Homo sapiens: one gene and its partner. The protein of the gene in region 1 purifies or fractionates together with the protein of each later gene. This does not show direct contact. Each region holds a gene or a part of one and is shown on either strand. Other genes may lie near its edges.

Region 1 (3,500 bases):
ACAGCAATCCCATTGCTGGGTGTACATCTGAAGGAAAATAAATCATTCTACCAAAAAGACACATACACTCATATGTTCATTGCAGAACTATTCACAATAGCAAAGACATGGAAATCAACCTACGTGCCTATCAGCAGCGGATTGAATAAAGAAAATGTGGTACATATACATATACACCATGGAATACTATGCAGCCATAAAAAAGAACAAAGTCATGTCCTATGCAGCAACATGGATGCAGCTGGAGGCCATTATCCTAAGTGAATTAATGCAGGAACAGAACACCAATACCTCATATTCTCACTTTTAAGTGGGAGCTAAACACAGGGGTGGGGGTGGGAATACAAGATGGGGGAGGGGAGAAGAGGGGTAAGGGTTGAAAACCTAACTACTGGGCACTACGCTTACTACCTGGATGACAGGATCATCTATACTCCAAGCTTCAGCATCACGCAATATACCCAGGTAATAAACCTGCACATGTACCCCCTGAATCTAAAATAAAAGTTGAAATAATAAACAATAAAATAAAATAGCCTTTTTTAAAGAGCAGTTTTAGGTTCGCAGAAAAATTGATTGAAAGGTACAGAAAATTCCCATATACAACACCCCTCCCTCTACACACAGCCTCCCCCATTATCAACATCCCCTGAGAGTGGTGCATTTGTTACACTCAATGAACCTACACTGATGCCTCGTCATCACCCAGAGTCCACAATTTACATTTGGGTTCACTTTTGGTGCTGCACATGCGATGGGTTTGGACAAATGTATAATAATGTGTATTCGCCATTACGATATCATACAGAATCTTTTCACTGCCCTAAAAATCTTCTGTGCTCCACTTATTCAGTGAGACTATTCATCTCTCCCTCCTCCCTACCCCTGGCAACCACTGATCTTTTCACTTTCTCCGTAGTTTTGCCTTTTCCAGGATGTCATAGTTGGAATCATACAGTATGCAGCCTTTTCAGATTGGCATCTTTCACTTAGTAATAAGTAAGTGAACCTTCATGTAAGGTTGCTTCATGTCTTTTCATGGCTTCATAGCTCCTTTCTTTTTAGGACTGAATGGTATTCCATTTTCTATGTGCACCATAGTTTATTCATCCATTCACCTACTGAAAAACATCTTGGTTGCTTCAAAGTTTTTGCCTGGATGAATAAAGCTGCTATAAATATCCATGTGCAGGTTTTCATGTGGATGTCAGTTTCAGCTCATTTGGGTAAATATCAAGGAGTGTGATTACCAGATTTCTCTCCACTGTTTGAGACCCGGTGACCAGCAGCCTTGCCTGCTAGGGAGGAGGGTGTAGGAGAAATAGGAAGCCAAGGATGGTTAAGACTTTGTGGGCAGGTAGCATGGCTGTGTCCCGGGAAGTGTCTCAGCCCTGATTTGGTCATTCATGTTCACTTTCCCACTAGGCTGTGAGTGTGAAAGTGCTTTAAGCCAGAGAGAGCCAGTTGGGAATTCTGGTTCTGCCACTTACTATCTGCAACTGTGAGACACATTGGTTCATCAAATCTGAGATGCCACCTGTTGTAATGGGCGCCTGTTTTATATGCCACTAAGAAGGAAAAATCTCTGCTGGGTAGGTGGCAAATTATATCAAGTGCCAGGTGCTTCCTGATTTCACAGACATATAAATGTGTGTCACAGAATCAATGAAACATGGTAATAGATGTGAAGAACTCAGAATAGCACCTGGCACATAATAGGCCCTTTCGACCTGAATGACCTTAAGGTAGCCTCACAACCTCTCTAAAGGCATTTCCCCAACTGCGACATGGGAACAACATCTACACTGCAGGACTGTCATGCAAACAAAATGCAACAAAGCTAAAAGGGCTCTGGGGCACAATCCTGGCCCATGGAAACATCAGCAATGTGGGTCTGTTCCCCCTTCTCTGAGGGCTGAGCCCCTGTCACATTGATCTCTAAACTCAGTGCTTGGCACACAGCCTGGCTGGAGGAAATGAAAAATCAATGTTTGCAGAATGTAGTAGAGAGCCATTCCTGAGCATTACAATGCATTGGTTCTCCAAGGGGAAATGTTGGGGACCCAAAGAACACCAGAGCAACTGAAAGAAGCCTTTGGATCATCACAAAGCCAGGGTTTGGCTGGGAAGTCATAGTCTCAGGGTGAAACACATGGTCAGTGCCAGAGCTGGGATCACAGCTTGCGTTTCCTTATGTGTCTTCCCACATCCTTTTCACCATCCTGCCCGCCCCACTACTCTTGGGGGCTATTTCCCCTGCTGGGACCTGAGCATCCTCACTTGATAAGATACTGGAGTGGTCAGTGGGTCTTATCAAAATCATTAGGAACACCAGATTCCACGGCCAATCCAGACCTACTGAAAGAGAATCTTGGTGGCAAGAGTGAGGGATCTCTATTTTTCCAAGTGTCCCAAATAATTCAGAACAATTGGTTTGTGGGCTGTGGACTGGCATTTAGATTAGAGGGTCAATCAGCAAGGTTCCTTCTAGCTCCAACCCTCAGTAATCCAAGGCCAGAGAAGAAATCAGGGTCATCTCTTTTTAAAGCCAGAATCCACTGGTGTCATGTGGGGTAGGGGTGGACATTGTACTGGAACCCAGTGACAAGTGGGTGACACAATGCAGGAAAATGCCCATGTGAACTGCCAGAGAAAATAACAAACCTACTCAAGCCCTGCTACTAATAAGCGCGGCACTCCTGGACTTTTGTTTTTCCTTTATCTTGTATTTGGCCAAGTGGGCTGGAAGGAGCCTCCTTTTAATGACTGTGACTTGGCAAAGACTTTCATAGGTCCCGAAGGAGATGGCAGAATTGACATCTGTGCCCCATGAGAAAGGAGAGAACTCAGAACTGGCCACATGCCTGGGCCAAGAAAACCCCAGAAAATTCTGCAGAGGAACCGAGGAAGCCACCAGGAAGCGACCCCAACCCCAGGAATGATGCTAAAGACTACAGCGAGAGCACCAGGGATGCCTCCTCTCGATATTGGATGTATTTGCTGCGGATCCTTCATCCCTGGCCAGGTGACCGTTCTCCCCACACAGACTGCAAATACAAACTCATTCAGGCTGTCCCCAAACAGGCTGAGGCTATGCAAGACAACAGAGAGATCCTGGAGAAGAAAAACATGGAGAAGAGCTGGAATTCAGAGGCTGGGTCTGACACCAAGAAACTCCCCGGGAGCAGTAAGGACAGGCTAACCTGCAGCCAGCAGCACCAAGAGGGACCCGGCCGCTGCGCGGGGCCTTGGCCCTGGGTTGGCTGAGGCCAGGCTGTCAGCCCTGGTTTCTCACAGACCTGCCTCACCTCTGGCTGCACCAGGAGGCCTGCAACAGAAGCCACAGTGTGGGGTCAGCAAGTAGGGCAAGAAGTGGCAGGAGGGTGCTGTGAGTCACAGAGCAGGCCAGGCAGAAGTCAGGTGTGGGGTCAAAACAACAGGAAGAGTGTGACTGGGTGTGACTAGGCAGCCAAGGTAGACGGTCGGAGACTCCCTGACTT
Region 2 (2,731 bases), on another chromosome or scaffold:
TCAAGACTACTCACTTGAGAGCTTAGAGTGGTCCAGGTTTTGAAGTGCTGCATGTCTGAGAAACAGATCATCGTAGACACTGAGAATTGGGGCACATCCTTCCTTTCCTATCTGACGGTAGACATGCCCCGTAGATGCTGGATAACAGAGACAGATGATTCAGATGTAGCACCCCGACATGAAACCAACCGTGGAAATACTGATAAAATCACCTGTTTGCTTTTTAAAATATGCAACAACATGAGTAAATGACTAGTTCATTTTATCAGCCCCCTTTTTTTTGCTGTCATATAATTACACGAATGAAAATTGATACACTTTTTAAAATACAGCTTTTCAAAATCCCATCTTGAGGAAAAAAGCTTGGCCAATTAAGAAGGCTGAGGGGAGGAACTGCAGGCACTTTTATTTCCAGCTGTCAACAGGATGGAAGAAATATGTCAACTTATTTATATTTATTTATTTATATGGGTGATGAATAAGTTAAGGAATGCTTCATCTCAAACACAGATTGCTTTTATTTTAGCTAAGTTAATGTTTCAGTTCCATATATATTTTTGAATTTCCATCAACGTCAAACACCATTTTTTTCTTTCTTCTTAAAAAAAAAAAAAGATTTACAAGCACTTTTACGGCACTCAAGAAAGTAGGCTGAAGGTTCATAATAATAATTTTCCTTTTAAAAAACATCCATCAGACCAAAATAAAATCATTTTAATTAACTCCTTCCTGAGTAACTAAAACCTTGGAATGTGCTGAAAGGTTATAATAAATAAGACAGTCAAAGATCAACTAGCTTAAAAGGTATTTTTTAAATTAAACTATGTAAAATGTACAATATGTTTCATGAAGTACAAACTGTTGGGCCCAGGGCCAAAAAAAATGTTGTCATGTTTGCCAAATAAACTGAAGTACCTTGACTTTTAGGACCTAGAGGGTGTTGGCTGGGACAAAATAACATTAAGGCCCTGTAAGTAAATCCGTCAGCATCTTTTTTTGTGAAGTTATAATGATCACTGCTGAAAAGAAATGCCTTTGAACACACAGGTAAAAGTACCCAGATAAACTTGCAGTAAGAGGATGAATGTTTTTGAACGACCAATTGTCCCAATGTTCTGACAAGAGCAGAGAAAACACAGCCAACTCAACTTTATTTTCAGATTGTGAGATTGCACAGTGTGTAAACTTATCATCATTCTTTATATGGAATTTCATAGAAATGACTCACAGGGTACCAGGCAGCAGTTCTTGTACTGGTTTTGAATATGATTGATAGCTGTTCTCCAGGTTGCTTCTGAAAGTATGCCTAATGGTAGGGCCCTGGTCTCTCTGAACAGGACAAAGGATATTTCCTCCTCTAAGAACATTTCCCTTCATCACTTCTCTGCCCCCGTCCTCTGAGGCAGAAAGAAGGCCCATGAGCGGCCAAGTGCTGGACTCTGTGCCTCTGTGGTCCCCGCCTTCCCTGGACTCCTGTGGGCTGCAGCCTTCTTAACACACATCTCATGATAAAGTAGCTTCAGTGCTCACTCGGCAGGTTCCAAATGACTTGCTTTATATCTTGGCTACAGTCCAATTTTAGTGAAGGCAGAAAAAATTCTAGAGAGACTTTGTGGTTTATGAAAAGTATAAAATGTGTAGCTTGTGTAAAGTCAGAGTCTTATTTACTATTAACTACTCCCAACTCACACATTTGCTAGGGCTGGCTCTAGGGGACAAATATGAAATAGACAAAATTTGTGGCAGTGTCCTTCCTGCTGCCACCACTGAACCTCGGCTTCTTAGCTAGCTGTTTATCGTCTTCCCAGGAGAATGTGTATTTTCAGCATTTTTTTTAAGGTGAAAATATTTCAGAACTCAAAGCAACAGATTTCTAATGACTGAACCAAGGCATCATTGATAGGTGGCAGGGGAGGGGCAGTGGGAGGTGGAAAGAAGACATACCTTAGGACAGTGAGACTGCCCAACATGTACTCACATCACATTGGAGGCAGCCACTTACTTACAAAGCTGGCCAAGCAGTCTCTGTCCCAGAAGCTCTTGCTGCTTCTTTTTGATGTCTCAAGTAAGAGTTCTCAGGAGCACACAGGTCCCATAAGAAATGGGACTCTACCTGCACAGAACTCAGGTAGTTCTCGGGTAGCTCTTCCACCTGCACAGAACTCAGGACCCCTTTTTACTGAAAACAGGTACCTCTTAGGGAACTAGAAGTTACAATAGTACATAGTACCAGGTCCTATAGGACCCAACTTGGCCAGGGGTGTGTTTGATAGATTACACACCATCTGTGGTCAGGCTCAGAACTTCTGCTGTAGGAGTCAAATGCCTGAGCTAAATTGGTTCCTAGAACTTCCATTAAAGCAGTGTTGGGAGAAGATGTTTCATATTGGGTGCAAAAGACACAGCCATGCCCTTTCCCTGATGCCACATGACCTTCAGATTTATCTGTCTTGTCTACATTCTTCCTTACACAGCAAACAAATTATTTTCCCTGCTAGAGTACTTTGATATCTGTCAGCACGGTGCTTTGAAATGGAATGTCTCAATGGAGCTGGCCATGCACTTTGACCTTGAAAGGTACTCCAGGCTGTGGATTGGTTGGGGATGCGGCACAAGCTGACTTGCTCTTTCAGAGATAATTACACTGCTCTTGGTGAAAGTGCCCCCTGAGAAGGACCAGAGGCAGAACTCTACCCATGCGGGTAGAAACCACTTACCCATGGAGATCCTC

Evidence for each region. The genes of interacting proteins can lie anywhere in the genome.
Region 2: the proteins of SCARA5 (region 1) and UST purify together in Homo sapiens (affinity purification with mass spectrometry; one large-scale study listed by BioGRID and IntAct). This does not show direct contact.

What each region holds. Positions count from the first base shown.
Region 1 is NC_000008.11:27,881,174-27,884,673, forward strand, and holds part of SCARA5 (scavenger receptor class A member 5), read right to left. Parts: intron 1-3,500. UniProt on the Homo sapiens protein: Ferritin receptor that mediates non-transferrin-dependent delivery of iron. Mediates cellular uptake of ferritin-bound iron by stimulating ferritin endocytosis from the cell surface with consequent iron delivery within the cell.
Region 2 is NC_000006.12:149,074,760-149,077,490, reverse strand, and holds the end of UST (uronyl 2-sulfotransferase), read right to left. Parts: 3' UTR 501-2,731; downstream 1-500. UniProt on the Homo sapiens protein: Sulfotransferase that catalyzes the transfer of sulfate to the position 2 of uronyl residues in glycosaminoglycan chains. Has mainly activity toward iduronyl residues in dermatan sulfate, and weaker activity toward glucuronyl residues of chondroitin sulfate.